3 linked regions of the Homo sapiens genome follow. The protein of the gene in region 3 purifies or fractionates together with the protein of the main gene of each other region. This does not show direct contact. Each region holds a gene or a part of one and is shown on either strand. Other genes may lie near its edges. The genes, in order: PAXBP1, NCBP3 and RSRC1.

Evidence for each region.
Region 1: the proteins of RSRC1 (region 3) and PAXBP1 purify together in Homo sapiens (affinity purification with mass spectrometry; 3 studies listed by BioGRID and IntAct, with this or other methods). This does not show direct contact.
Region 2: the proteins of RSRC1 (region 3) and NCBP3 purify together in Homo sapiens (affinity purification with mass spectrometry; 3 studies listed by BioGRID and IntAct, with this or other methods). This does not show direct contact.

Annotation. Positions count from the first base shown.
Region 1 is NC_000021.9:32,768,714-32,775,853, forward strand, and holds the start of PAXBP1 (PAX3- and PAX7-binding protein 1), read right to left. Parts: upstream 3,043-7,140; 5' UTR 2,956-3,042; coding exon 2,613-2,955; intron 1,230-2,612; coding exon 1,101-1,229; intron 1-1,100. UniProt on the Homo sapiens protein: Adapter protein linking the transcription factors PAX3 and PAX7 to the histone methylation machinery and involved in myogenesis.
Region 2 is NC_000017.11:3,815,181-3,822,291, forward strand, and holds part of NCBP3 (nuclear cap-binding protein subunit 3), read right to left. Parts: intron 6,873-7,111; coding exon 6,773-6,872; intron 6,173-6,772; coding exon 6,069-6,172; intron 3,393-6,068; coding exon 3,083-3,392; intron 1,091-3,082; coding exon 936-1,090; intron 1-935. UniProt on the Homo sapiens protein: Associates with NCBP1/CBP80 to form an alternative cap-binding complex (CBC) which plays a key role in mRNA export. NCBP3 serves as adapter protein linking the capped RNAs (m7GpppG-capped RNA) to NCBP1/CBP80.
Region 3 is NC_000003.12:158,112,982-158,120,092, forward strand, and holds part of RSRC1 (serine/Arginine-related protein 53), read left to right. Parts: intron 1-7,111. UniProt on the Homo sapiens protein: Has a role in alternative splicing and transcription regulation. Involved in both constitutive and alternative pre-mRNA splicing. May have a role in the recognition of the 3' splice site during the second step of splicing.

The sequences.
Region 1 (7,140 bases), on a different chromosome or scaffold from region 3:
ACCATCTTGGCAAGCCACTGTAGCAAATGTAAACCCTTACTGGATACTGAACATCCTTCACAATCTGTCAACGTATCTTTCACATGAAACTTCTAACTACTTCCTTCACAAATCATCTACTCTGACCTGTCAGGTGTACTTGTTCTTTTCCAAAACAGCTTTAGTCATTTTAATCCTTGATCATACCCCCAATACCTTCCCTTTCGGAATTTTAACTATCAAAGATCCATCTTCGAGTCCCACTTTTTCCATAAAGCAGTCCTCTCTCCTCTGAAAGAGTAGCCACCCTTTGGAACACTGATTGAACATTTTGCCAAACACTGAGTCCTCTTACACATTTATGAGATATTGTCTTCACATCTAGATTGTAAATTTGAGATACAAAGCCATACTTTTTCACAATAAGCCTGTAAGTGAGAATCTGGAAAATCATGATTTTCTCATTAATTCCATAAAATAAAATAGCATTTGCAGGAGAATAACTCAGACCATAGAATATTATACTGGATCCACTTTCCTAAAGACAAAATAACCGCTTAAAATTTTTTAAACTGAGGTTTTGAGAGACGTAAGAGATGTCTGTACAATATACCTGCCTCATTATTCTAAGGAGTCTTCATCTAGTATCAGATAAGGCTGCTGAATGGGAGTAATACTAATATTAAATTTAGGGCATTCCTAAAAGTTCTCTAAGAATAAAATCCACTGTGGAAATACCACCAAAGAAATCGCAAATCTGTCTCTACAAAATACAAGAATTTGCACAACACTCCTTCAAACAGAAATAAACCTGTGTCTTAGGCTAAAATGAGAAACCTTCTTTCTCTGTTCAACAGCAGTCTGCACACAAGTAGGAAAACTGTGAGAGAATCTAGTCATTGCAGCAGAAATGTTCCAGTGGCAACAATTCTGTCTTCTTATAAAATACATTTACAAAGCATCTGTGTTACAATTAAATAACAGAACTGTACTGCTACTCAATAAGGGCCCTTGACAACCACAGGGTCCACTGAATGAGTTCAGAAGATATACAGCAAATCACTGTGAGAAAGAGCTTTCATTTTGTCATTTCAAAAGAATTCAATTAGTTTGGTACTTACTTTCAGCTGATGAGTTGAGTTCTGTCTTAATCTTCGATTTTTCAAGATCTTCTTTATATTCCTTCTTGAGCAATTTTACTATCTTTTTGCTATAACTTGATTTCTTCACTTTGAAAACTTCTTCATTTTCTTAAAAAGGAAATTAAATGAAGTCTGTAGCAACTATTTTCTGAAAATATTTTCCCTTCTTTCACATGATCTTACGTGCTGTCCAAATTATCCCAAATATATATACTCATATGCCAAAATCATTGTATAATTATTTCAAGTCTGTCACAGACTCAAAAACAGAGGTCAACTTCCTAAATTACTGTGAAGTAATGAGATTTTTGAGACTTTTTAAAGGAATAGCACATGTAACTTCACAAAATTTTCCTATTATTGTCGTCCTTAAATCATCTATTTGAGAGGGGAAAAAATCATTCAAAATGTTTCTGAAAAACCACATCACCAAGTTATTAACGAATCCGAAACAAAATATCTAAAATAAAAAGGTGCTGTCAATTCTGAGTAACTACATCCACCACAAGCTGACATAGTGGTTTTAAAGCTAAGGTAAGGGCAAATCACTTTTCTTTGATTTGAAATTTTAAAAGTACTAAATACTTAAAAAAAAATAGCTCATGTATCTCAAAAACAAAAATCTGTCTGTACTCCTCTCAAACCAAATAAAGAGTAACAGAAATGCCAAAGATAAACTACCTACCTTACTGGAAACCTCTCGAATAAAAATGCAAGATTTACAAAACTTAATTTCTTTTTTCGTAACATGGAATTAACTGGGTTATGCACATTCAAATGGTCAGAAGAAAAGATTTAAGGCTCATTTAAGATCAGCAATCTAAAACCACTGCAGCCTGGCCTCCCACAGGAATTGGAGAAACTACCTTGCTTTTACTATTTTTACACCGTCTCGCTTCACTGTTCCCAAAGTCAGTGCGAAGAAGGCTGGGTATCTGCTACCCCTAATTACTTTTATGGGTAAACTGAGGCTCAGCGACTGCAAGGGACTGGCCCAAGGTCACTCAGAACCAGAGCTGCAACTCCAGGCTTCTGTTCCCTCTCCTAGTATTCCTTTTTACAAACTCGGCCTTCATGGTCGAGGATGCCTGGACAGAGCATCCAAGAAGTGTGGGCGCAGTGACCTGCAGAGGGCTCGGAAAGCATGCCAAGAGCAGCCAGGGGACCCACACCAAGTTGGCCCTGAAACACGCCAGGCAGAAAAGAGGCAGGACAGGGAACACCGAATTTCCCCTGAAACACTCTGAATGCCTGATCTGAGCTCCGGCCCCGTGGCAGAGGAGGTGGTTAAGAAAAGGCTGGGGGCAGCGCGGGAACGCGTCCCTTGCCCGAGCAGAAGGCCGGAGGCTGGGGAAGATTCGCAGCCGGTCGGACGGCAGGGGACTCCGTTCCAGGGCTCCGGGGCTGGGCGTCCAGAGAATACGGGGGCGGGGGACGGGGGCCTGCGTCGGGGATGCGGCCGTCTAAGGGCGTCCGAAGCGCGCACTTTACCTTCCTCCTCGTCCTGGAAGCTGAGCAGGCTGGCCCGGGGCACCTCTTTGTTCTCGCGAGGCCTCTTGCGCGGCTTCAGCCCGTTGCCGGGCTCCGCGCCGCCGGGGAAGCCGCCCCCGGCCTCAGCCCCGAGGCCCGGGGTCAGCGCGGAAGGCGGCGACGGCCCCGGGCCCAGCAGCGACTCCCCGCCAGGGGCCCTGTCGCCGCCACCGGGGCCCGCCTCTTCGCCCGTGCCCGGCGGCGGCAACAACGGCGGCGGCTCCTGCTCCTCATCGCGTTCCCGCTCTTCCTCTTCGGAGTCGTTCCGCTTGCGCACGTTCACCCGCCGGGCCTTTCGGAACATCCCCGCGGCCCGCACGGCGGTCGAATACTCGCTTCCACACCGCGGCCCCGGCAGCGCCGAGCTCGTGACGGCGCACGCGCGCTCTCCGGAGCTCCAGCCGGGTCGAGTCCTCTGTTGCTACCGCGCACCCCACGAGCGCGCATGCGCCTATGCTCCCACGCGCTCTCAATACTTGGAGAAAGAGAGAGAGTGAGAGAGAGAGAGAGAGAGAGAGAGAGAGAGAGAGAGAGAGAGAGAGAGAGAGAGAGAGAGAGAGAGAGAGAGAGAGAGAGAGAGAGAGCGAGAGAGAGAGAGAGAGAGAGAGCGAGAGAGAGAGAGAGAGCCCCACACCTCTCGCGAGAGCGTCGGCTCTTTGCATCGCTCTCTGTCGGAGTGGAGTACTATTAGCATGGAACTCTGGTGTTGTTTGACAGGTCACAAAGAGGATCATAGAGATGAGAAGAAAGAGTAGGCTCTGTTGTCCCTCAGACGGCGCTGCTGCAGTGCGTCTTCGCACTTACGCGGAGCGGTAATGTGAGGAAGCCTCCCGCCAAACAGATGAGGGAGGAGGAGGAGGGGAGAGGCCAGAGAGAGAAGCGGCTTTCGGGAAGGAAAGTGTGATCTAGTAGGTGGAATAGTCCTCTCCAAACTTTGACCTGAGGTGTGACTATTGGTAATTACTAGTTATTCTTGAGTAATACTTTGTATTTCTACAGCTTTATAGCTACAGAGCTCTTAGAAAGACATTGAATTTTATTTATGATACAATGTTACTTCAAAGACATTGAATTTCATTTATGGTACAATGTTACTTCAAAGACATTGAATTTCAGTTATGATACAATGTTACCTGGCTTGATGTCCCCCGTTCCCCAGTCTTTCAGGAACAAGGAAAGCAAAAGTGTTTCCGTGTTTTCTAAAGAATGCCAAGTTTGCAAGCAATTCTATGACTAAATACTTTCCAAAGCTTAGTGAGTTTCAGAAACAAGTGGAAGGAAAATAGAGCAGGGGGTGGGGAAGGTTGTGACAGTTCTCAGACTTGCGTGACAAAGCCCTCGCTGGCCACACCTTCACAGGGTGATTGCGCCTAAGGTTGAACTCACCGGCTTTCCCTATCTCATCACCGAACTAGAAGTTTTTCCTTCGGGCATGCACCTGTGCATGCGAATTCATTTTGATGTTTCGAAATTAAAAGGGTATTCGGTAGAGTGAAAAAAATCCACCCATGTCTGGAAGGCTGTTCACTTCCTCAGTGGCAATGTTAACAGTTTCTTATGATCCTCTAAAGATGTTCCATGAACATAAAAGCAAATAAATATGCATATTTTAATGTGTTCCCCTTTTTACACAGATGGTGTGTAAGCTGCATTTTTAGCCTACCGTAGATTGGAGATCGGCCCATATCTGTATATGAAGGGTTGTGTTTTTTTGGTTTTTTGTTTGTTTGTTTTGAGACTAAATTTCGCTCTTGTCGCCCAGGCTAGAGTGCAATGGCGCGATCTCCGCTCACTGCAATCTCCGCCTCCCAGGTTCAAGTGATTCTTCTGCCTCAGCCTCCCTAGTAGCTGGGATTACAGGCACGTGCCACCACGCCCAGCTAATTTATTTTGTATTTTTGTATTTCACTCTGTTGGCCAGGATGATCTCAATCTCTTGACTTCGTGATCCGCCCGCCTCAGTCTCCCAAAGTGCTGGGATTACAGGCGTGAGCCACCGCGCACGGCCGTCTATTTTTTTTTTTAACCCACCTGCGTAGTGATTCATTGTTGGGATATACCGTAATTTATTTAACCAGTTCCATAAACATTGATATTTAGATTATTTCTAGTCTTAATCAGTGCTGTAATGAAAAGCTTTGAAAAACTGTTACATCTGTAGGATGAAATAGAATTGAAATTGCTAGATCTCAATATATGCATTTATGATTTTGCTAATTCTAAATTTCTTTTTATAGAAGTTATGCAGTTTGCACTTATATCAGCAAACATTAGGATGCCTGTTTGCCCACACCATCCTGTAGAAATTTCAGTAAGATTTAAATTCCAGGTTGAAGTGGAAGATCCCGAGCACTCCAAGCATTTCTTTTTATTTTATTTATTTATTTATTTATTATTTGTTTGAGACGGAGTCTTGCTCTATGGCCCAGACTGGAGTGCGGTGGCACGATCTCAGCTCACTGCAACTTCTGTCTCCCATGTTCAAGCTATTGTCATGTCTCAGCCTCCCGGGTAGCTGGGATTACAGGCATCTGGCACCACACCCGGCTAATTTTTGTATTTTTGTTTTGTTTTGTTTTGTTTTTTAAGACGGAGTCTTGCTCTTCTCGCCCAGGCTGGAGTACAATGGCACGATCTCAGCTCACTGCAACCTCTGCCTCCTGTGTTCAAACGATTCTCTTGCCTCAGCCTCCCGAGTAGCTGGGATTACAGGCACCTGGCACCACACCTGGCTAATTTTTGTATTTTTAGTAGAGACGGGGTTTTGCCACGTTGGCCAGGCTGGTCTCAAACTTCTGACCTTGTGATCCGCCTGCCTCGGCCTTCTGAAGTGCTGGGATTAAGGCATGAGCCACCACACCCGGCCTAATTTTTATATTTTTAATTAGATTTGACATGTGCACAACTAGGACTCAGTTTTGGAGCTAAGAGCATCCTCTATAACATTAACATTTTCTTCTAGTTAATAGGAAGGGTTAATAACATCTGGCTTCCATTCTACTTATGTTACTCTCAGTTCTTATATTCTGGCTGTTCAGCATTGGTGTAAGTTCTGATTCCAACAGTGTTTCACTAGTGAAATTGAACTCCCTTTTCTAATCATAGAAGATTCAAATTGTGCCTGATCAGCCTCCAGACACCTGAGCCAAGAGAAAGATTTGCAGTAAAATAATTAGGGTAGAGGTAGCAAAGACAAGGTCCAGAAGCCAAATATGTTATTATGGTGGCCTGAAATTTCAAAAATTTCTCCCAGTGTAAAAGTGGTGATTGGATATGGATAGAGGGAAGAGTACCTCTCATTTTAAAGTAAGCCACAATACAATCACTTGTCACTTGACGGGGATACATTCTGAGAAATATGCCATTAGGCAATTTCATCACATACTTACACAAACCTAGTGGTGTAGCCTACTACATACCTAGGCTGTATGGCATAGCTTATTGCTTCTAGGCTACAAACCTATACGGCATGTTACTGTACTGAATACTGTAGCACTTGTAACACAATGGTATCTGTATCTAAACATAGAAAAGATACAGTAAAAATACAGCATAAAAGCTTTAAAAATGGTGCACCTGTATAGGACACTTACCAGGAATGGAGCTTACAGGACTGGAGGTTGCTCTGGGTGAGTCAGTGAGTGAGTGGTAAGTGAATATGAAGGCCTAGGTTATTACTGTACACTGCTGTAGATTTTATAAACAACTGTACACTTAGGCTACACTAAATGTTTAAACATATTTCTTTCTTCAATAATAAATAGCTTACTATAACTTTTTTACTTTATAAGCTTTCTTATTTTTTAAAACTTTTTTGTTGTTATTGTTTTGTTTTGTTTTTGTTTTTTGAGATGGAGTCTCACTCTGTCACCCAGTCTGGAGTGCAGTGGCGCGATCTCAGCTCACTGCAACCTCCACCTCCCAGGTTCAAGCAATGAGACAGAGTCTCACTCTATCCCCAGGCTGGAGTGCAGTGGCGTGATCTCAGCTCACTGCAACCTCTGCCTCCCAGGTTCAAGCAATCCTCCCACCTCAGCTTCCCAAGTAGCTGGGATTATAAGCGTGCACCACCATGCCCAGTTAATGTTTGTATTTTTAGTAGAGATGATCCGCACACCCCACAAGCTCCTGTGTTGGCCAGGCTGGTCTTGAACTCCTGACCTCAAGTAATCTGCCCACCTCGGCCTCCCAAAGTTCTGGGATTGCAGGCATGAGCCAACGTGCCCAGACATTTTTTAAAACTTCTTGACTTTTTTTTTTTTTTTTTTGAGACAGAGTTTTGCTCTTGTTGCCCAGGCTGGAGTGCAGTAGTGCAACCTCAGCTCACCGCAACCTCTGCATCCAGGGTTCAAGAAGTTCTCCTGCCTCAGCCTCCTGAGTAGCCGGGATTACAGGCATGCACCACCACGCCCAACTAATTTTGTATTTTTAGTAAAGACAAGGTTTCTCCATGTTGGTCAAGGCAGTCGCAAACTCCCGACCTCAGGTC
Region 2 (7,111 bases), on a different chromosome or scaffold from region 3:
GTTACTTTTTTAACTCTCTACCCCACCCCACTCCACCCTCAAGTTGTCTTTCTAAAATAGATGTAAGATCAGGTTACTTCTCATGTAAAAAAATCAGGTTTGCCAACAGAGATCCTACCCTCTCCAAGGCCTGGCTCTAATGCTACTTTCTCTAAGAAGTCTTTCACAACTTCCCGAGTAGATCTATGACGGCTCTGCGTCCCCTCCAAAGGCTTCTCACATTCCTAGCACCTAGACCAGGGTCTGGCACATAGCAGGTACGGCTAAAGACCTGCTGAATCAGTGTTTGAACATAGAAATTATCTAGTTCAAACTCTTAACTGTTCAGACAACCACCGAACTTAATTTCTATTATTCTTGTATATAAAGTATACCAGTGTCATACAGAGGAAAATATGGTTGGCCCTCCTCATCCATGGATTCCACATCTATAGATTCAACCAACTGCTGATCGAATACATGTGGAAAAAAAGTAAGACATAAGAGTACAGCAAAAAATAATACAAATTTTACACAACACAGGATAAGAATTTATACCGTATTAGGTATTGTAAATAATCTAGAGATGACTTAAAGTATATGAGAGGATGTGTGTAGGTTATATGCAGATAATATGTCACTTTATATAAGGGACTTAAGCATCAATGGATTTTGGTATCTGTAGGGGGCGGGGAGGGGGTCCTGGAAGCAAGCCCCCAGACATACCAAGGAACAACTGTAATTATTTGGAATAAAAACATTTAAAGCTAGTTTTTCAGAAGTCTGATTATTTTTCATTTCCTCAATTTCCAACACCTAGCCCACAATTTAGACATGATGAACCAGGACAGCTAAATCAGTTCACACATCGCATGTTTTACTCAGGAACCTCTCTCTGCCCCAGTCTGCTTTCCGGAGCTCAGAATCCAGCCAGGAATCCAAGTGAGGAACAGTACCTGATTTAGTACTGCTGACTGGTGGCCGTGGACGGGAGTGCTGACGTTTCTCATCTAATAGATGTCGGACATCTGCAAATTTCTCAGGTGGTAATTTGTTACCAATTCGGTTTTTGATATTGCTTGAAGATACACTATCTGCCCTCATGGAGTTCCTTTAAAAAGGGGGTAGGATGGGGCACAGTTAACCAACTTCAACTGTGAGACAAGACCCAAACAACAATCTCATACTTTGGAGGAAACAATTTAAGAAATCCTGTCTTACATGGCCAACATTCACTTACAAATCCATAAACTTATAATTATTTGCTTATGGAAACCATGATCTGCCTGCTCTAAAGAGACTGGTTCTGGTGAGCAGGTTTTCGAAGGTGGTTTCCACATGTGTATGTGCTATTACACAGCATACAACTACAAGTCCCCCTTTTCTGGGACAAACGTTAAGTAGAGGCCTACAAAGAGATTGGGGCTTCCACTTACACATGCTGTGATGTGGCTGTAGTCAACACACAGTATAGTCTACAGTCTCTCTCTTTAAAGGGCAGACTTCTCTTTCAAAGAGATATGCTATCATGCTAGGTGCCAGCACCGTTCCGGCAGCATTCTCTACCAGAAAGCTCTCTGAAAACCAAAAATAAGAATGTGAACAGGCTCATGCCTGTAATCCCAGCACTTTGGGAAGCTGAGGCGGGCGGATCACGAGGTCAGGAGATCGAGACCATCCTGGCTAACATGGTGAAACCCAGTCTCTACTAAAAATACAAAAAATTAGCTGGGCGTGGTGGCCTGTACTCCCAGCTCCCCGGGAGGCTGAGGCAGGAAAATGCTGTGAACCCAGAAGGCGGAGCTTGCAGTGAGCCGAGATCGTGTTATCGCTCCACTGCACTCCAGGCTGGGCGACAGAGCGAGACTCCGTCTCAAAAAAAAAAAGAACGTGGTGAACAAGGCCATACAAACAAATCAGCTTGAATGGTCTTTTCCCCTCCCCACAAACATACTACGTTACACAGAGCATCCCTAGACTCTAACCCTTAGAACTGTGGATTCTGCCTGCACAGAATCTGCTCACCCCTAGTAGTAATCAAAGACATGCACATTAAAATAACTATTTTTTTTTTGTTCATGAAACTAGCTAGCATTAGAAAGAATGGTAATAGCTAAGGCTGGTGAGCTTGTAGGTAACAGGTGGTAATGTGAGTGATTAAAACCCTTCTGGGATTAAAACCCTTCTGAGCCCGGGCATGGTGGCTCATGCCTGTAATCCCAGCACTTTGGGAGGCTGAGGCAGGTGGATCACGAGGTCAGGAGATTGAGACCATCCTGGCCAACATGCTGAAACCCGTCTCTACTAAAATTACAAAAAATTAGCCAGGAGTAGTGGCAGGCGCCTGTAGTCCCAGCTACTCGGGAGGCTGAGGCAGGAGAATGGCGTGAACCTGGGAGGCGGAGTTTGCAGTGAGCCGAGATCGCGCCACTGCACTCCAGCCTGGGTGACAGAGCGAGACTCCGTCTCAAAAAAAAAATAAAAACACACAAAAAACCCTTCTGGAAAAAAATAAAGCAATACTTACCATCTTTTTAAACACATATTGTTTTGTGTAATAACTGGACTTTGAGGAATTTATTGAGTTAGTGCAATTGTAAGAAAATAGAAACCTAAAGTCCATCAAAAAGGAATTCGTTAAATAAATCATGATACTTTCAAACAACAGACTATATACAGTTGAAAAAAATAATGTCTACAATATATTAAGTGAAAAATGCACAATGCAAAACTATAAATAGCATAACCTCATCTTTATAAAAAGTATACTTTTATACAAATATATCTACAGCTTTTCCCTGTGCCATACACACACACACACACACACACACAAATAGCTGAAAGGTTATTCGCCAAATTGCTAACAGTAGTTATTGTTGAGAAAGAATGGGAATACAGATGATTTTCACTTTCTATGTTGTCTTTTGTTTTTATAACAAGAATCACTGCTTGTATAGAGGAAATACTGGATGCGTTTATTAAACTCCTACAAGGGACTGAAATCAGAATAGATAAAAGATATTATAAAATTAGGAGGAATTAAGAAGTTATACTAGTATTTAAAATCAAATTAAAAGCTAGCTTTGATAAAACAAATTTTTACCTAATATTTTTCAACTGAGATTCCACTTCGTCAGCATACATAGTCATTTTCATGCTTTTCTTTGGTGAAGGCGTGGAAATCATTTTCAGTTCTAGATCATAGTCCATTTCATCTGAGTCTGAGCTGCTGGCACTGGATCGTCTAGACGCGCTCCGCTCCCGGGGCTGCTTGAGAGCCGGGAGCTCCTCGTGGTACTCTACCACCACTCTGTCATCTGCATCCATGTCCTGGTCTTCTTCTTCCTCTTCCTCTTCCTCCTCCTCCTCCTCTTCCTCCTCTTCAATGGGTTCCTCGGGAACATTCACTAGCCCTGAAGAAATTTAACCAGAAAACATTAGGAAAAGCACTAAAATTAACAAGTATGATTTTCTACTCTACATCGGTGACCTTTTTAAAAGGTGGGGTTCCCATCCCTGACATTTTATTGGAGCACTATCTATAATAGTGCCAAATGGACATTACTCTGATACTGCAACAGGAGGATGGCTAGGTAAAGTATGATGCAGCAGCCTAACCAAATACCATAAAGTCATTTAAAATACAACTGACCTTTATTATTCACAGATTTTGTATTTGCAAATTTACCAAATTTATTTGTAACTCCAAAATGAATACGTGCAATGCTTCCATGGTCATTTGCTGGCACGCACAGAGTGGCAAAAAAATCTGAGTCACCAGGCACACACACTCCCAGTGGAGGTCAAACAAAGCAACACTCCACCTTCCTGTTTCATCTCATGCTGTAAACAAGCGTCTGTTTCAGTCCACCGAGTGGCACATTTTTCACACTTCTGTGCCTGCTGCTAGTGATTTCACTGCTTAAAATGGCCCTGAGTGTCGTGCCGAAGTGCTGCCTAGTGTTCCTAGATGCAAGGGGGCTGTGATGTGCCTTGTGGAAAAATACCATATCAGGTAAGGCATTCAGGCATGAGTTATAGGGCTACTGGCTGTGAACTCAATGTTAACGAATCAACAATGTGTCTTAAATAAGGTGTCTTAAAGAGAAACATATGGGCCCAGCGCGGTGGCTCACGCCTGTAATCCCAGCACTTTGGGAGGCCGAGGTGGGCAGATCACGAGGTCAGGAAATCGAGACCATCCTGGCTAACATGCTAATACCCTGTCTCTACTAAAAAATACAACAAAAATTAGCCGGGCATGGTGGTGTGCGCTTGTAGTCCCAGCTACTCGGGAGGCTGAGGTAGGAGAATGGCGTGAACCCGGGAGGCGGAGGTTGCAGTGAGCCGAGATCGCGCCACTGCACTCCAGCCTGGGCAACAGAGCAAGACTCTGTCTCAAAAAAAAAAAAAAGAGAGAAACATATGTAAAACAAGGTTACATATTGATCAACTGACAAAAATGATGTGGCCAGAGGCTATGTACGATTCAGTATTTGCTACTTCAGTGTTCACAGTGACTTTATAGAACATAAGCACCATGAATAATGAAAATGGAAAAATACAATAAACGAAAGAAGTAGAATATAAAGTACATGTTCCCAAGAGTTATACTATTTATTATGAAAACAAATGGGAAAAATGTAAGATGAACTCAGTCATCATACAGGGTACTAGAAATAGGGGCAATTTGCTTTTTAATTTCCTTAATATGGATATAAAAAGTATATGATGAAAATATTTTAAAGTAACTCAAATTGGAAAAGTGTAACTGTGTAACAGTAAAGTATGTGTATTATTATTATTATTTTGAGACAAAGTCTTGCTCTGTCGCCCAGGTTGGAATACAGTGGCACAATCTTGGCTCACTGCAGCCTTGACCTTCCAGGCTCAGGCAATCTCAGCCTCCCAAGTAGCTGGGACCACAGGTATGTGCCATCATGCCTGGTCTGGCTAATTTTTTAATTTTTTGTAACGACAAGGTCTCACTATGTTGCCCAGGCTGGTCTCAAACTCCTGGTTTCAAGTGATCCTCCTGCCTTGGCCTCCCAAAGTGCTGGGATTATAGGTGTGAGCCACTGTTCCCATCCTATGTGTATTATTAACATGTAGATCTCAAATATACAATTTTGTATATACACATTAAATAAAACATCTAGACTTCATCCCTTTCTGTCCCCATTACAATGATAAATGTGTGTATATGTTATTTTGTATGCTGACTTGACTAGTTCTATTAGGCATGTAGAAGATTCCATAGATTAGGCTCAAAACAAGAACAATTCTTTATAAAACATAAATAAAATGGTTCTTTTACAATAAGCACCAAAAAAAGGAGAAAGAAACCCAAGTCATGATATCCCACTCTTCTGAGGCATTCACATGCACAAACCAACAAGCACAAAGCACTCAACACAGCAGCCTATTTTTAATACAGAAAAAGAACAATACAATCAGTTCATCTGATAAAATAATTTCAAAAATTGTTTTTGGCTAGGCGCGGTAGCTCACACCTGTAATCCCAGCACTCTGGGAGGCCAAAGTGGGTGGAACACAAGGTCAGGAGTTCGAGACCAGCCTGGCCAACATGGTGAAACCCCATCTCTACTAAAAATACAAAAGTTAGCTGGGCATGGTGGCGCATGCCTGTAGTCCCAGCTACTCGGGAGGCTAAGGCAGGAGAATTGCTTGAATCCAGGAGGCAGAGTTGCAGTGAGCCGAGATCAAGCAATTGCACTCCAGCCTGAGAGACAGAGCGAGACTCCGTCTTAAAAAAAAAAAAAAAATTGTTTTCATGCAGCTGTTGATATTAATAGTAGAAAAATTAGGATCCTAAGGAAAGTTTTGTTTTAATTTTTCCTATGTCATATTTTGCCTTTTTTGATAGAACAGCTTTTATAAAATCATTTGACCTCTTTGGGCAACTTAAAATTAATTGTGACTTGACTTACTTTCCTATATGTTGGCAGAGGGTGAGGGCAAGGAAGAGAGGATGATAAAGTTTGGAACCTTAAAAGATTGCATTAAGAATAAAAATATGATTTCAGGAGCCAAACATGTGTCTACCCAAGAGCTGAGCAGGCAACTACCAGAATGTCGATGTTTATACGACGTCAAGCCAACGTCATCCCCAATCAGGGCTCTCTTCTTGATCACGTCCCGCTGAATACGACGGGAATGATATCTTCGCTTCCTGCAAGAATGCCAAAATAAGCACACAATCAAAAACTGATAGGAAGGACCTTGAAATCCACTATTTCTTTCTCTTTTCTTTTTTTTTTGTGATGGAGTCTCAATCTCTCTCCCAGGCTGAAGTGCAATGGCACCATCTCAGCTCACTGCAACCTTTGCCTCTTGGGTTCAAGCAATTCTCCTGCCTCAGCCTCCCGAGTAGGTGGGATTACAGGCGCCCACCACCATGCATGGCTAATTTTTGTATTTTTAGTAGAGACGGGGTTTCACCATGTTGGCCAGGCTGGTCTCGAACTCCTGACCTCAGGTGATCTGCTGGCCTCGGCCTCCCAAAGTGCTGGGATTACAGGCGTGAGCCACCATGTCTGGGCTCGCTAATTCATTTCAACTACACGTTGACACAATGTTAGGTACTAACACAGATATTTTAAATGTAACTACAATTCAGCATTCCCCATCATTTACCACATCTAAGAATCTTGAATTCTTCCCTCTTGTTTTCCTTCCAGTTTACACAGGGTTTAGACATTTCACCACGGAATACCAACTGAAGGATTAAGAAAAACTCAAATACTATTGCATTTGAAGGTTTTGGACTCACCATGAATTGCTAAGAATTCCTTTCATGCCTCCATAATTTGGATTCCCATATTTCATGTAATACTGACTTCTTCTGGCTGCTCCAAGTTCCTTTTTGTCATCTAAAAATTAATGACAATAGTTACCTAGGATTTCCTGTGAGTGTAAAGACAATGTTGAATTTTTTTTTTAATGTTTTCCATAGCTGGAATCAGATCAGCGCAATTTGCCAACAAAAAGTAAAAATCCACTACCAACATTCACACTCTGAGTGCCCACTACAGCAATGCAGTGTAGAGGGGATAAAGCAAAATACAGAGACGAATGAGGTTAAAACTGCTGTTTGGAGCCAGATGACTTA
Region 3 (7,111 bases):
TTTTGTGGCTCCATAATATTCTGTGATGTATATGTACCACATTTTCTTTATTCAGTCTATCATTGATGGGCATTTAGTTTGATTTTGTGTCTTTGCTATTGTGAATAATGCTGCAGTGAACATAAACGTGCATGTGTCTTTATAACAGAATGATTTCTATTCCTTTGGATATATACCCAGTAATGGGATTGCTGGGTCAAATGGTATTTCTGGTTCTAGGTCTTTGGGGAATCACCACACTGCTGATTCCTCAAAGTATCACCCGTTCTGGACAATGCCTGTGACATCATCTTCCACAATGGTTGAACTAATTTACATTCTCACCAACAGTTTATTAATAAAAGTGTTCCTGTCTCTCCACAGCCTTGCCAGCATCTGTTGTTTTTTGACTTTTTTTTTTTTTTTGAGACGGGAGTCTCACTCTGTCACCAGGCTGGAGTGCAGTGGTGCGATCTCGGCTTACTGCAACCTCTGACTCCCTGGTTCAAGCAACTCTCCTGCCTCAGCCTCCTGAGTAGCTGGGATTACAGGCACGCTTCACCACGCCCAGCTAATTTTTGTATTTTTAATAGAAACAGGGTTTCACCATGCTGGCCAGGATGGTCTCCATCTCCTGACCTCGTGATCCACCCCCCTCAGCCTCCCAAAGTACTAGGATTACAGGTGTGAGCCACTGTGCCAGGCCATTTCTTGACTTCTTAATAATTGCATTCTGACTGGCATGAGATGATATCTCATTGTAGTTTTGATTTGCATTTCTCTAATGATCAGTGATGTTGAGTTTTTTCTCATATGTTTGTTGGCTGCATAAATGACTTCTTTTGAGAAGTGTCTGTTCATGTTCTTTGCCCATTTTTTAATGGGATTCCTTTTTTTTTCTTGCAAATTTGTTTAACTTCCTTATAGACTCTGGATATTAGACCTTTGTCAGTTGTATAGGTTGCAAAAATTTTCCTCTATAGATTGTCTGTTCGTTCTGATGATAATTTCTTTTGCTGTGCAGAAACTCTTTAGTTTAATTAGATCCCATTTGTAATTTTTGTTTTTGTTGCAATTGCTTTTGACGTTTTTGCCATGAAATCTTTGCCCGTGCCTTTGTCCTGTATGGTATTGCCTAGATTTTCTTCTAAGGTTTTTATAGTTTTGGGTTTTACATTTAAGTCTTTAATCTATCTTGAGTTAATTTTTTGTGTAAGATATAAGGAAGGGGTCCACTTTCAATTTTCTACATATGGCTAGCCAGTTCTCCCAGTACCATTTATTAAATAGGGAGTCCTTTCCTCATTGCTTGTTTTTGTCAGGTTTGTCAAAGAACAGATGGTTGTAGATGTGCGGTCTTATTTCTGAGTTGTCTATTCTGTTCCATTGGTCTATGTGTCTGTCTTTATACTAGTACCATGCTGTTTTGGCTACTGTAGCCTGGTAGTATAGTTTGAAGTCAGGTAGCATGATGCCTCCAGCTTTGTTCTTTTTGCTAAGGATTGTCTTGGCTATATGGGCTCTTTTTTGGTTCCATATGAATTTTGAAATAGTTTTTTTTTCTGATTCTGTGAAGAATGTTAATGGTAGTTTGATGGGAATAGCATTGAATCTTTAGGTCACTTTGGGTGGTATTGCCATTTTCACGATATTGATTCTTCCTATCTGTGAGCATGGAACGTTTTTCCACTTGTTTGTGTCCTCTCTGATTTCCTTGAGCAGTGGTTTGTAGTTCTCCTTGAAGAGGTCCTTCACTTCCCTTGTTAGCTGTATTCCTAGGTATTTTATTCTTTTTATAGCAGTTGTAAATGGGAGTTCATTCATGATTTGGCTCTCTGCTTGTCTGTTGTTAGTGTATAGGAATGCTAGTGATTTTTGCACATTGATTTTGTATCCTGAAACATTACTGAAGTTGCTTGTCAGCTTAATAAGCTTTTGAGCTGAGATGATTAGGTTTTCTAGATATAGGATTATGTCATCTGCAAAGACGATTTGACTTCCTGTCTTCCTATTCGAATACCCTTTGTTTTTTTTCTCTTGCCTGATTGCTGTGGCCAGAGTTTTCAATACTATGTTGAATAGGAGTGGTGAGAGAGGACATCCTTGTCTTGTGCTGGTTTTCAAGAGGAATTCTTCCAGCTTTTTCTCATTCCGTATGATATTGGCTGTGGGTTTGTTGTAAATGGCTCTTGTTATTTTGAGGTATGTTCCAAGGAAGGACTTTTGTTATCTTTCATTAACCTGTGTTAAATGTAATCAACCAGCCTTCTATTATGGATAAATTATGTTGTTTGTAATTAGAACAAATAAAAAATTTATACTCGCCTTCTCCTGTTCTCTCTTTTTGGTCACCCCCAAGACAGATAGATCTGTGTCCCTTCCTTTTTTTCTGCTTGTTTGTGCCTTACTCAGAGATGTAGTATAAAGGACAGAAATAGAGAATGGGAATGACTGTAGGTATCTTAGAGCAGAGGTTCTCAAACATTTTAGTCTTAGGGTCTCTTTACACTCTGAAACATTGTTGAGGACTCCAATAACATTTATTTGGATTATATCTATGAATATTTACCTTATTAATTAAAACGAAATTTTGAAATCTTCATGAATTCATTTAATAACAATAAACCCAAAATATGGTAACATAAATAGTATCTTTGATATGAAAAATAACTGTGTTTTCCAAAACAAACTTAGTGAGAAAAGTGGCCTATTTTCCTTTTTTGCAAATCTCTAATGTCTGGTTTAATAGAAGATGGCTGGATTCTCATATCTGCTTCTTCATTCAATCCACTGAGATAAATTGTTTTGATTGAAGTTTGTGAAGCAAATCTGGCTTTACTCAGATAAGTGTTTTAGTAACCCTTTTCAGGTAATTATGTCTTTCGTATTACACCAAAAATTGATTGTGTTAATTTCTTGAAGTTCTGTTTTAATATGGTTTTTGAAACCATATGGATAACCTTTGGTACTCCATTATGTTAAAATCTATTGGTCTGACTTACACTCTGAGTGGATCTTTACCCACGCATGGTTTTGTGACATTTTGCATTGGCCATTTGGAAAATATTGGCTCACTGAGTTAGGCATATCTTTCTAATGTTAACACCCTTCATTATATATCAAAAATTCATGTTTGTTAATGTCACCGATGATCTCGGAAGTTTTTAAGTATTCAGAAGCTATCATTCTCATGGTGGCAATACAAATTATCTAAAATTCAAATTTTTGCTTGCAAGCTTGAATTTTATCATCAGCAATGAATACTCTTTTCCTTGAAATGGAAGGATCCCTTCATTTTCAAGAAAAGGTTTTCCAGATACTCAAGTCTGCATAATTATAGTGAGTTTTTAAAATAAAATAATGTTTCATAATAAAAGCAGCTAATTCAAGTTGCAATTCAGTTACACAAATGCTTGTTCTTGAAATAACCAGCGTTCTTCAATATATGGCAGAAGTTATGTGTATCTCTCATTTCATAAGAATATTAAAAAGATGTGTATGTACTCGAGTGGAAATTTAGTAAAATTTATGATTTTTACTGCTTTATTGAGGACATTCTTAATTGAAATTGCTTTTTTTTTTAAACTGTGACTGTATGGCAGTGAGGGATACAGTGACTACTAAGTATAATTTGGTGCCTCTGCCTTGATTTGTGCTAAGGTGCCAGCAGTTTTGTCCACTATTACTTTTGCACCATCAGTGCAAAAGTCAGCACAATGAAAAAGGTAAATAATGTTTTAGTGTTACAGTGAATATAGTTTTGACTTCTTGAGTCCCCTGAAAAGTGTTGTAGAGATCCCCAAGGGTCTACAGGCCTCATTTTGAAAATCGCTGGTACTAGAATGTAAGCTTCTATAGGGAAAGGATTTTTTTTTTCTTGTTTATTGATGTATTGCTTATATGCTATCAGTCTGGGATGTCTTTCGTATCTTCAGTATAAGATTACTTATATTTTGAATCTGGGTTGTCTGTTGTGATACTCTTCTTTTCATGGAGCACACTGTCGAGTAACTTCATGAAAAGGGGAGAGTGTGGGGTATAATTTTGAGACCTTACATGTCTGAAAATGTCTTTATTCTAATCTCGTAGCAGAACAGTGATTTGGCTGGATAGAGATTCTAGGTTGAGATTCATTTTCTCAGCATTTTAAAGGCTAGTCTCCGTTGTTTTCTGTGTTGTGAAAACCCATATGCCTTTTATTGTGCTACCCATATTTTTTTATCTTTAGAAATTTCTAGGCTCTTCTGTATATTCCTGGTGTCTAAAGTTTTTATGAGATATACTGGGTATGTCTTTTTAGAAAAATCATTGTCCCAGGGACTTAGGGCAATTCATCTTTCAATTCTGGAACTTTGAAACAAGGACTTATTCTGTCACCCAGACTAGAGTGCAGTAGGGTGATTGCAGCTCACTGCAGCCTGGACCTTCTGGGCTCAGGTGATCCTGCTGCCTCAGCCCCCTCAAGTAGCTGGGACTACAGGTGTGCACCACCATGCTCAGCTGATTTTTTGTAGAGACAGGGGTTTCACCATGTTGCCCAGGCTGGTCTCAAACTCCCTGGGTTCAAGCAATCCACCCACTTCGGCCTGCCAAAGTGCTGATATTACAAATGTGAGCCACCATGCCTGGCCTGGAAATTTAATTTTTGGGTAATTTTTTTTTGTCCCTTTTCTCCTGTTTTTAAAGACAGGATCTCACCCTATCACCCAGGCTGGGGGTGCAGTGGTGGGATTATACCTCACTAGAGCTTTGAACTCCTGGGGTCAAGGTGTCCTCCCATTTCAGCGTTCAGAGTAACTGGGACTACCGGCTTATGCCATTATGCTGAGCTTTTCTATTCTTTTTTTTTTATAGAATGCGTATCTGGTGCATTTTGGACTTCCAGATTGATCCTCTTCTGTTTGTAAAATGTCTGTCTCTTTTTCTTTCTTTCTTTCTTTCTTTCTTTCTTTTTTTGAGTCCTTTAACCTCTTTTCCAACCTTATTGTTTTTGTTGTCTGTTTTTTTGAGGCTGGGTCTCGCTCTGTCTCCCAGGCTGGAATGCAGTGGCACAATGTTGGCTCACTGTAGCCTCGCCCACTTGGGCTCCGGTGATCCTCCTGCCTCAGTCTCCTGAGTAGCTGGTACTACAAGTATGCATCACCACGTCCAGCTAATTTTTGTATTTTTTGTGGAGACCAGTTTTCACCATGTTGGCGGGGCTGGTCTCAAACTCCTGGACTCAAGTGATCTGTTTGCCTTGGCTGCCCAAAGTGCTGGGATTACAGGCGTGAGCCACCGTGCCTGGCCTTAATTTTAAATTTTTTTAGAGACAACATCTTGCTCTGTCACTCAGGCGGGAGTGCAGCGGTGCAGTCATATCTTTTGGACTCAAGGGATCCTCCCACCTCAGCTTCCTGAATAGCTAGTACTAGAGGCATGTGCCACCATGCCTAGCTAAGTACCTGGCCTTCTGTGTGTGTGTGTGTGTGTGTGTGTGTGTGTGTGTGTGTGTGTGTGTGTGCGCGTGCGCGTGGTTTTTTTAAATTGTCCTTTGTTAAAATTTTAAGCTATCTGTCCTATTCTCCAAATGTTCCTCCTAGTCTTGTTTGCTGGATCATCCTGTCATATGCATCTGAGGATATTAGCTGTTATTTTTGTTCTTGAAGTTTTCTTCTGTATGTTCTGGTTTACTATCATTTGCTTTTTTTCTTTCTGTTTTAGTTTCTGTCTTTTATGGTGAAGGCTTTCATCATGTTTGCTTATATTTTGTTGTATATTCAGCAAAAAGTTAACAGAAAAAATGTTTACAGAAAAATGTTATAAATACAGTTGTAACCTGTATTTAAGGTTTGGACTTGTCAACTAGTAGGCTTCATTATAGGGTGATTGGGTGGGGGCCTGCCCTTTTTGGGGGGAACCCTCAAATGCTTATATATCTTTTCTTAGGTGTTGTTCAGTTTTTGCAGATATTCAAGAATCCTCTTGAGGATAGCACACAGAGGGCTATGACTTTTCTATTTGATTATAGACTTTAACTTAACTTAATCTCTTTAACTTTTAGTTTGGCATCTCTGTCTTTTTTTACTGTGTCCTTGGACCTGGTGCTTCTTTGATTCATTTTTCTCCCCAAAATAAACGTTCTCTCCTCTGAGGATTGGGGAAGAGTATCACCTGGCTGGGTAGAATGGAGGGACTCAGGGACACTATTACATAAATTCAATCAATTTTTTTTTTGTTTTTAGCCTCATGGCCTCATTGTGCCTGCTCTGGTATCTGGTGTCTTAAATTCCTGATCCTTTCTGATTTTTGCTATGTGAATTTGCTTTTCTCTTGTTGGAATTCTCTACAGTTGCCTGATAATAAGTTTTCTTAGCTCTAAATTCTCCATGTGTTTTTCACTTGCCAAAAGTTTGTTGACATATCTCATGTTCCTGTTGTTTTCTAGTCTCTATCCTTTCAAATTTATACTTTTTAATTTCTTTAATCTTATTTTGGTATTTTTTAAAACAAGATAGCAAGATAGTAAAAGCTCATCTTAATTTAAATGGTTATTTGTTTGTGAGGAACATTCTTAAATGATTAAAGGTAAAAACAAGAAAGGAATTAAAAGCCAAGAAATGAAATTATTATCATTCAATTGTGTACATATTTCTTAACATGGATATAAGTATATGTGTGTGTGTATAATATACACACATACATATGTGGGTATCTATTTGATATATATAATGGATATATGTATATATTTTATGTATAAATGGATATGGACACATGTGAATTTATATGTATGTACAGATATACCTTATATACATCTGAATTATGTTTGTATTTAAATGTATGTTTGTATTTACATATATATACATGTTGTATATATTTATAATTTCATAGTCTTTTTTTTTTTTTTTTGAGATAGAGTCTCGCTCTGTCACCCAGGCTGGAGTGCAATGGCACTATCTCGGCTCACTGCAACCTCCGCCTCCCAGGTTCAAGCGATTCTCCTGTCTCAGACTACTGAGTAGCTGAGACTACAGGCGCATGCCACCACGCCCAGCTACTTTTTGTGTTTTTAGTAGAGATGGGGTTTCACCATGTTGATCAGGCTGGTCTCGAACTCCTGACCTCAGGATCCGCCCGCCTCGGCCTCCCAAAG